Regions from separate parts of the Homo sapiens genome. Here region 2 is reported to be linked to region 1. Evidence: microRNA targets listed by miRTarBase, many of them from high-throughput screens and not tested one by one. Region 1 holds a microRNA gene; the other region holds the end of a gene's coding sequence. Distances are between the middles of the regions.

The links. Region 1 holds the annotated microRNA hsa-miR-4666a-3p (CAUACAAUCUGACAUGUAUUU, at 2,122-2,142, opposite strand). A microRNA usually pairs through its seed, bases 2 to 8, with sites in the 3' UTR of a target mRNA and lowers its output. Matches are read on the target gene's strand: a 7mer-m8 pairs with bases 2 to 8, a 7mer-A1 pairs with bases 2 to 7 and ends in A, and an 8mer does both.
Region 2: the mRNA of SIPA1L2 is a reported target of hsa-miR-4666a-3p. Seed matches in the 3' UTR shown: 7mer-A1 at 3,117-3,123.

Annotation. Positions count from the first base shown.
Region 1 is chr1:228,459,865-228,464,266 of GRCh38, reverse strand. It overlaps MIR4666A (microRNA 4666a), which reads right to left and starts at 2,193; the gene lies at 2,115-2,193. It also overlaps the pseudogene H2BC27P.
Region 2 is chr1:232,395,260-232,399,661 of GRCh38, forward strand. It overlaps SIPA1L2 (signal induced proliferation associated 1 like 2), which reads right to left. Exons shown (of 23, transcript NM_020808.5): 23 at 2,706-4,014. The coding sequence ends at 3,868. Among named protein-coding and RNA genes, the nearest start is that of SIPA1L2, 230 kb to the right of the region's middle.

The DNA of each region.
Region 1 (4,402 bases):
CACGCCGTGTCCGAGGGCACTAAGGCTGTCACCAAGTACACCAGCTCCAAGTGAGGTGCGTCCCGGCGCCCCGAACCCAAAGGCTCTTTTCAGAGCCACCTCCAAGCTCCAAAAGGAGCGTGCCACCTGGTCTGGTTGTGACCTGTGATTCAATTGGAGTAATGAGGGAAAGTAGACTGAGCCGTGGGGGCGCAAGTCTTAGAGACAAAATTAGGCTTCTTGTTTGTAACGGCATATTTCCCTTAGAAAGGCTGCGTTCGTCTTGTGTTGGCCACAGGCAAAGTCAGAGAGGGGGCAGTACAGGCGATTGCGCCATGGATCCCATCCAAAGATCTGTGTGTGGCTTACGCCCTGCGCGCGAGGAGCGTGGGTCACCTCCGGGAAGATCTTGTGCCACGTCCCCGCCCCCAGTGCCTCCTGGCGGCTGAGACTGGAGGACGTGCTCACTGAGGTCCGGGGTTGGAGGTGAGGGGGTTATCGCGCCGTCTGGGCGGAGGCGCTTGGGTCCGTTCTTCTCCCGCCCCTTTCCTCCCTCCTTAGCCACAACTAGACACTGTGAGCTTCTAGCCAAAACCATTTCAGCAGCGTTGCGCCTAAGCAGCTCTTTATGCCACGCCTTCCTGCTTGAAACATCAAAACAGCAGGCTCACAGATCTCCTTATCACTCAGCTAAAATTTCCCCAATTAAGGGATTCTCGTATTTTACCCCCAAAATGTGTGTGTGTGTGTGTGTACGCATATTACACAGTGAAAGATTATTTTGAATAATGCAAATATAGTGCTTTTTAAAAAAAACTCCAGCAAATCATAGGAAAAATAAGTATGATCTCTGGATGACACATTAAAAACTAAGGCATGCAGGCCTGACTGGGGCCCAGGCTGTCCTCCCCCTAAAAATACCCCATACCGGTGACACCCCAACCACGAATACCTGAGAGCTACCCACCCTCTAAGCAAAAACGTTGCCTGGAATTAGAATTCGGTTTCCAGGCTCAGTTCCCACTGGTAGAAGATGCACTCTACCCAGGCTCAGTTCCCACTGCACACTCCCAACACAATGACAGCCACGCATTTATCAACATTTAACCTCTCTGGCCTCATAAAGTAAATCCATTTTCTTGGGTTAGTTTCTTCTTAAAGGGAGTTTTCTTTCCTCCAAATTCTTTTTGTAAATAGGCTTTATTTTTTAGAGCACTTTTTCAGAGCAATATGCTTTTTTATTAGTAGTACGTAATAGTTGTACATATTTGGGGGGTACAAATATTTTGATATACGCATAGGCTTAACAATCAAACCAGGGCAACTGGGACATCCGTCATCATATTCACACCCTCTTTAGGTCGAGATCATTCCAATTCCTCTCCTCCAGCAATACAACTAATTATTGTTAACTACAGTCACCCTACTTTTCTAACCAATACTAGATGTTACCATTTCTTCTAAGCATATTTTTGTACCCATTAATCAACTTCATCTCCTCCTTTCCCCACCACTCTTCCCAGCTTCTGGTAACCAGCAATCAACTTTCTACCTCCATGAGATGCATGTTCTTAGCTCCCACGTATGAGTGAGATCATGCAGTATTTGTCTTTCTGTGCCTGATTTGTTTTACTTAACATAATGTCCTCCAGTTCCATCCATGTTGCTGATGACGGGATTTCATTTTTTTTAATGGCCAAATAGTATTCGAATGTGTAAATGTACCACATATTCTTTATCCATATATCTACTGATGGGCACTAAGGTTGACTTTCTATCTTGGCTATTATAAATAGTGCTGCAATGAACATGAGACCGCAGACATCTCTTTGATATACTGATTTCCTTTCTTTTGGATATATACCCAGCAATGGGGTTGCTGGATCATATGGTAAGTCTGTTTTTAGTTTTTTAAAGAATGCCCATATTTGTCTCTATAGTGGCTGTACTGATTTACATTCTTACCAGCAGTGTACAAGCATCCCCTTTCCCTGCGTTCTCACCAACATTTGTTATTTTTTGTTTTTTAATCAAAGTTGGTTTAATTGGAGATGATTCCTTCCAAATTATTTTATTTACTGCATAATAATTAGCAAATCTGACTTGAAATTTCCATCTGAGATGGGTGAGGGGCAATCTCTTAAATACATGTCAGATTGTATGCCAGTCTGGAGGGATTTTGTAGGCATACAATCTGACATGTATTTAAGTGATTGTCACTCACCCATCTCAGATAGGTGAGATGAAGCTTAGTTTAAAAATTTGGCTTAGTTTAAGAATCTTGGCATGTCTCTCCAACCCAGAAAATGCTTCCATTTTGTTGAGTGAGTCCTAATTCCCTTAGTCTCTGTGGATTCTCACATATTTGATGTGCACTGCCTTCATTTATCATTAACATTTGTCTTTCTCTGTTGTAACACTATAATTAGAGAAATGGGTTCTGGACACGATTGCTCTGAATTTTCTCCATTATAAAATCTTAGTAGCAAGGATCCTGTTTTACCTTCTTTGCCTCTCCCTTAACAGATCCCTGTCCTAGGAGAGACGGACAAATCCCATTCATTCTGGGCCTGGGGGTGCTAATGTAGCAGGAAAAGACAGCCTGTTTCTACTTCAAGTTTGTGCCAGGGGAATCAGAAGGACTGAGACATGAATTGACTGACGTTTGACATTATCCATCACAAAATGCCTTCTTAGAGAATTACACTTGGAAAATGTCATGAAATGTTCATCTTGTGCCTTGATTTGATCTCTGGCACTAACCAGTGTTGTTGCCTTGTGCTAACACAATCATTCACTCTCTCTACTGGAGACTGGTTTCACTTTATTAAACCTATGTTTTAAGTTCATTAAGGTGGAGAACTATATGGGTCTGTGAGAGTAGTTTCACAGCTGCAAATGTTTAAGGTATTGACTTCCAATCCATGCTGGTAGGAGGCCGAGGGCTTGGATGTTCCAGTCATTGGGCACCTGTTTCATAGTGGAGAGGACTGGATTCAACAGCTTTTCATACAAATCCTATATTTCTTGACAGTACTAAGGGTGTTGACAAGTCCCACTTACTTTTGATGATGGATCACTGTTTAATATTTGGATTATAACTAGGGATGCAAAGAATTGAATAAAGTGCCTATGACAAAATTGTCATTCCTGTGTATTTTTTGTAAATTTTTTTTGGAGCATATATCAAAACAAAACAGAATGGAAATGACCCCGTGCACTGCTAGCATTGTAACCATATGGAAATGATCCCATGCTGTGCTAACACTGTAACAATATGAACACTGCATGTGTGCAGTCATTGAGGTGGAAAGGAGAGGAGAGAAGAGAGTGGGTGCACCATCCAGCTCATTAAGAGTCAGTTTCACTAAAAGTTTATCTGTTTGATAACATCAAATTATTTATGTTTTGAACAATTGTGTACTGTCGAGATGATTTTTCTTAACAGTGAGAGACTACCCAGAGGTATGCTTAAATTTCAATGTAGACTTTTTTGCAGAGAACAATAGACAAAACACTATTAAACATACAATAGATATATTATGGTAGGGTGAAATTGTAAGGCAAATGGAGAATGGAAATAGGCATTCAGGAGGAAAAAAATCATCTGAAACATCGCATTGACAAAGAAAAATTTGGTCATGTATTTTATGAATTGATTATACTATCATATTGATATTCCAAAAGGCACCTTGAGACTGATGTGAGAATTTTGATTTTTAAAAAGTTCCACGTTGGTATTTGTATCTTTGCAACTATTTTAATTGAAAATAAAAATATTTTAGATAGCTTTAAAACATGCGAGGTTCTCAAAGATTCTTGTAGAGGAATCACGCAGGAAAAAAAAGGTGGGGAATAGGGGACAAAGCCGTTTTGGTCGAGGATGTTCACGGTGACCTTTCTTTCCCCATCCCAGGCACGCGACGGGTTCCCTTTGGAGAAATGACTTGGGGGAAAAATATTTTTCATTGAATTTTATTTAAAAATTATTTCTCGGCCAGGAGAAGTGGCTCACGCCTGTAATCCCAGCACTTTGGGAGGCCGAGGAGGGTGGATCACGAGGTCAAGAGATCGAGACCATCCTGGCCAACATGGTGAAACCCCGTCTCTACTAAAAATTAAAAAAATTAGCTGGGCGTGGGTGGCGCACGCCTGTAGTCCCAGCTACTCGGGAGGCTGAGGCAGGAGAATCGCTTGAACCCGGGAGGCCGATGTTGCAGTGAGCAGAGATCGCGCCATTGCACTCCAGCCTGGGCGACAGAGCAAGACTCCGTCTCAAAAAAAAAAAAAATTATTTCTCATTTAACTTTATTGAATTTTTATTCCCTGCTGGAAATGGTGACACAAACGCTCAGTACTTCGAATTTTCACAACGGTTTGAGGAAGCAATTACTGGAAATCTTCTTTTTCTAAAGAAGAAAAG
Region 2 (4,402 bases), 3.9 Mb from region 1:
ATAAGCCTTCTCCTAGCTATAGAGAATAGCAGGATAAAAGCCTAAATAACTTTGTCACATACTAAAATGGCCTTAATACATAATAGTTCACTCCATATGGTTAGAAAAACCTGCTTATTCTAAAATAATTTTTTTAGCAGATATATTCCACAAAATATTTGGTTTGTATCCAGTAAGTCATAGCAAGTCAATATGTTTAGTTTTTAAGGGGTACATTTTGTAACAGTGTTCACCAGGACACCAAGTTGTTCAAAACTACATGTACTATGGGAGCACGTAGTTGGTTGGTTGTTGACTGGAAACATGTTTGAAAGAGCTTAACAGACCCAAATCATTTTGGCCCTGTTTTTTGACATGGCCCTTTGGAGATGGACTTGAGAGAGACTATTCATTCCTTTGCTAGTATAGACTGAGAACTGTGTTTTCAAGAAATGTCTTCTGGTTTTGTCGTCATGCCTTCGGAAGATGGAATGGCTTTCCATTCAGCTAGGTTTTGGTCAGATTCCTTTATTTTCTCTAAATGATGTCCACCTTTCCACCTGATTAGTTGCTCTAAAGCAAATGCATACACCCTTGATCAAATACGCAGGAGAGCTGTATTCCAGGCCCTTGCCAGGAGCATAACTGTTTGTTGTTAAGCCTTTACTAAAGGCAAGAGATATTTCTGGAAAACCGTCTGATGAACATGCAGTTCATGGATTCCTTTGAAGTCTAGGGCGTATCCCTGGATCCAACCCTTCCAACTCGTCTCCAACCCAGTTCTGTGGGCTCTATCTCCAAATACATTCTCACGTGTAGCCTACCTACTTCTCTCCACTTTCACTGCCTTACCACAGGCCGTGCCAACACCATCTCTTACCTAGACTGGTCTTCCTCGTGTACTTTGCCTTATGCCTGGCATTGGTAAATTATACTCGTGAGTGGCCTGTTTTTGTGTGGTCTTGCAAGCTAAGAATGACTCTTACCATCTTTAAAGGGTATTAAATAGAAATTTGAAAATATGCAACAGAGGCAGTCAGTGACTCCCAAGGCCTCAAATCGTTCGTTTGCAGAAAAAGCCCCACACAGAAAGTTTGAAGACCTACATGGTCCATTCTGCTTTAGAAGTCAGAATAATCCATTTAAAATAGAGCTCTCATCAGGCATCTTTCCTGCTTCAATGGCTTCTTTTTGACTTGGAACAAAATCCAAAGTCTAGCATGGCCTCCAGTTCCTTCATGGTGTGGCTTTTGCTGATCTCTTCAAGCACATCTCCCTCCACTCTACCCTCCGTTACGTCCTGGCTTCTGCTAGACTTCTTGAATACACTAACCTTAGGGACTTTGAACCTCATGTGCCCTCGTCTACCCATGGACCACCCTATCTAGGTCCTGATTCCTCATCTTTAAAAAGGGGAGTGATGATGGCACCTACCTCACATGGCTGCTAGGTAGGTAACACAAAGCTCAACAGGACCTGGCACCCAGGAGCTATTCAAACAGTATCAGTGTTTATAATAATTACTTAAGGTAGCCTGTTGCAGGTACTTTTATTTCTGTCTTTCATGTTTTGAAGTGATCTTATGTCTGTCTCCCCATATTAGATTGTATGCCTGTGCACACAGGGGCCCTGACCGGTTGATCACTGTTGGATTTTCAGCTCCTAGCATGCTGCCTGGTTCACACTGATGGGAAAGAAAAAAAAGGGAAGGAGGGAGGAAGGACAGTATCTATGTGGCCCATAAGGTCCTTATTCCCTGAAAATCTCCAGTCCCTGGCTGCAAATTTTGGATGTGCACCTGTGCATTTCATAGAGGGCAGCTGCATGAAACAGCTTTAGGAAGCCTACTGCTACATCCACTGTGAGAATGTTAATTGTTCAATATGCCTCTCATGTGAAGCCCATATGGAAAATTCCTTTTGGGGCCAATTCTAAGAGTCAGTTTGCTTCCTCTGAATTCTTGATATGCTTTCTGTTCTTCAAAGGTTGAGAGGAATGGACCTTACAGTGTTTCCCTTCACACCTGGATCTATGTTTTGTGTCTTCTTACATTGGATTCAAATTTACAGTTTACCTCTTCCTGATAATTTTTCAAACTCTTACTGTTTTTGTTTGTTTTTTGAGATGGAGTTTCGCTCTTGCTGCCCAGGCTGGAGTGCAATGGCGCTATCTTGGCTCATCGCAACCTCTGCTTCTCGGGTTCAAGGGATTCTCCTGCCTCAGCCTCCCGAGTAGCTGGGATTACAGGCATGTGCCACCATGCCCGGCTAATTTTGTACTTTTAGTAGAGACAGGGTTTCTCCATGTTGGTCAGGCTGGTCTTGAACTCCTAACCTCAGGTGATCCACCCGCCTTGGCCTCTCAAAGTGCTGGCAACACCAAAGTGTTATTTTATTTTATTTTTTTAAAGGCAGTCTTGCGTAAATTACTTCACTTGACCCACAGTTCATGTGGTTGTAAATGGGAACCCCACCTCCTACCTATGAAGGATAGATACCATTGGGGTTAAATGAGATGGATGAAAAGTTCAGAGAATAGTGTCCGCCACACAGCAGCTATTAAAAACTGCTAGGTACTCCTTCCTGAAATCGATCTGGGATTCTATGAGAAAGGAGCTGAACAGTATTTAATACAAATCAAGGTTCTAAATGACCTGAAATAAATTCACATACAGTCAGACTGTTGACATGTTAGATCACAAAAAATCTAGTCACCTGACAACACCATTTCTTATGTGGACTTCTTTTAAACATTTATTAAAAAAGCAAAATGTATGTTCATCTCAAATCTAACAGTTAAAAATGGTAAAGCAATACAAACAATGTGTTACTAGCAGCATCCAGTCGTTAGAATCTCTCACCCTGCTTCTCGGTCTGATCTGTGCAAGCTCAGTCTCTTCTGAGCCTGCAGCTACCTCCATCCCTCATCGTAGTGCAGGCCAAACCAAATTTTATAAAATTAACAATTTAAGGTTAAATAAGCTTAAATAAGGGTGTTAAATACAAGACACTTCATCAAAGCTTCTGTACAAAGATAAACAAATCTGGCATTGTACAAGTGGTTCCGCTGGCTCACAGCACACAGGGAAGTTCTAGTGAGTAAGCAGATTCACTCTCATTTCTTTCCAGCAGAGCAACTATACAAAAGTGAACTAAGAGTTGAAGTGACTACTGACCACTCGGTGAGCCATTTACAAGGCATATGTATCTTTTTTTTGTTTTTAATCAGAACACTGTTAATATTCAGGCACCATTTGTTCCTGCAAATAAATAAGTCTCTAAGGTAACTGCATCTGAACTAGTGTTAAACACAACAGTGCTTTTTTTTTTTTTTAATCCCCCCACAAAGCTTTTCCAACTATGTACTATGCCTCCTTTCTTATTGCTATGGTAATGTGGCTGTGGAAATAAAACTACTGTACATCCAAAAAAATAGAGCACCTTTAACATTAAAGTATATGTCTGATTATTTGTTCTCATGTTTATTTTACAATACTAAAGCCCAAACTATGGTAAATTGCTTTACATCTCTACCAGGTCACCTGATATACAGGAAATAAAACTCAACTATCTTCCCTCTTGAGGTAAGCCCAAGCCAGAGCACTGTTTTAGCAGAGTCTAAAAGAAAAAGGTCTCAACTGTCGCCAGGGTTTACATTCATCTTCACACCAGGAGTTACATTCATTCATCTTCACATCGGCGCTGCTCTCTGCCGTGGTTACCGAGAAAGAGTCGAGGCTCCCTATCCTGCTGTGGTGAATGGTGCTACACAGAATGGAACAGCAAAAACATCTACGATTGGTTGAAAGCACACAGAAAAACCACATGTTTGTGACTTCAAAGGGACAAGGGGCATTTCCCAGTGGTCCCTTGATGAGGTGCGGATTGGCTAAGATTTTTTGTCGATGGTGGTGAAAAACCATTCTGTGAATTTCCGCAGCTGAGCTGTCGCGGTCTGGGACTCCTCCTGCAGTCTCATGTTGTCCTGTCTCAGGTGCTGCACTTCTGCTTGGAGAACGGCCTTGTCTTGTTTTTCCTGGTCAGAGCAGAAATAAACTGAGTCATGGAGACTGATCGATACATTCATTCCTCCTAAGCTGGGCTACGAGAATCTTTGATTCTTATTTTTACTTATGTACTTTTTGAGGGGAGAAGGGGTGACTTTCTTTAGTGAGGGGACTTTTCTGATCCTGATTCCTGCTGATGACAAAGGGATGGGAATGAACACTCCACACACCCTGTTCTTTCATCCCACTCTGCTCCCATGGGGTGCTAAGATAGCCTTTATATAGGAAGGGTGTTCATCATAGTTTATATTACCCTCTATCCAAAAAAGGGAGACTACAGGGAGGTTAAAGGTAATACCCTTTTGACAAATGCACAAAACTTTCTAAGTAGAAAATTGGAATTAGCAGAGCTGTTAC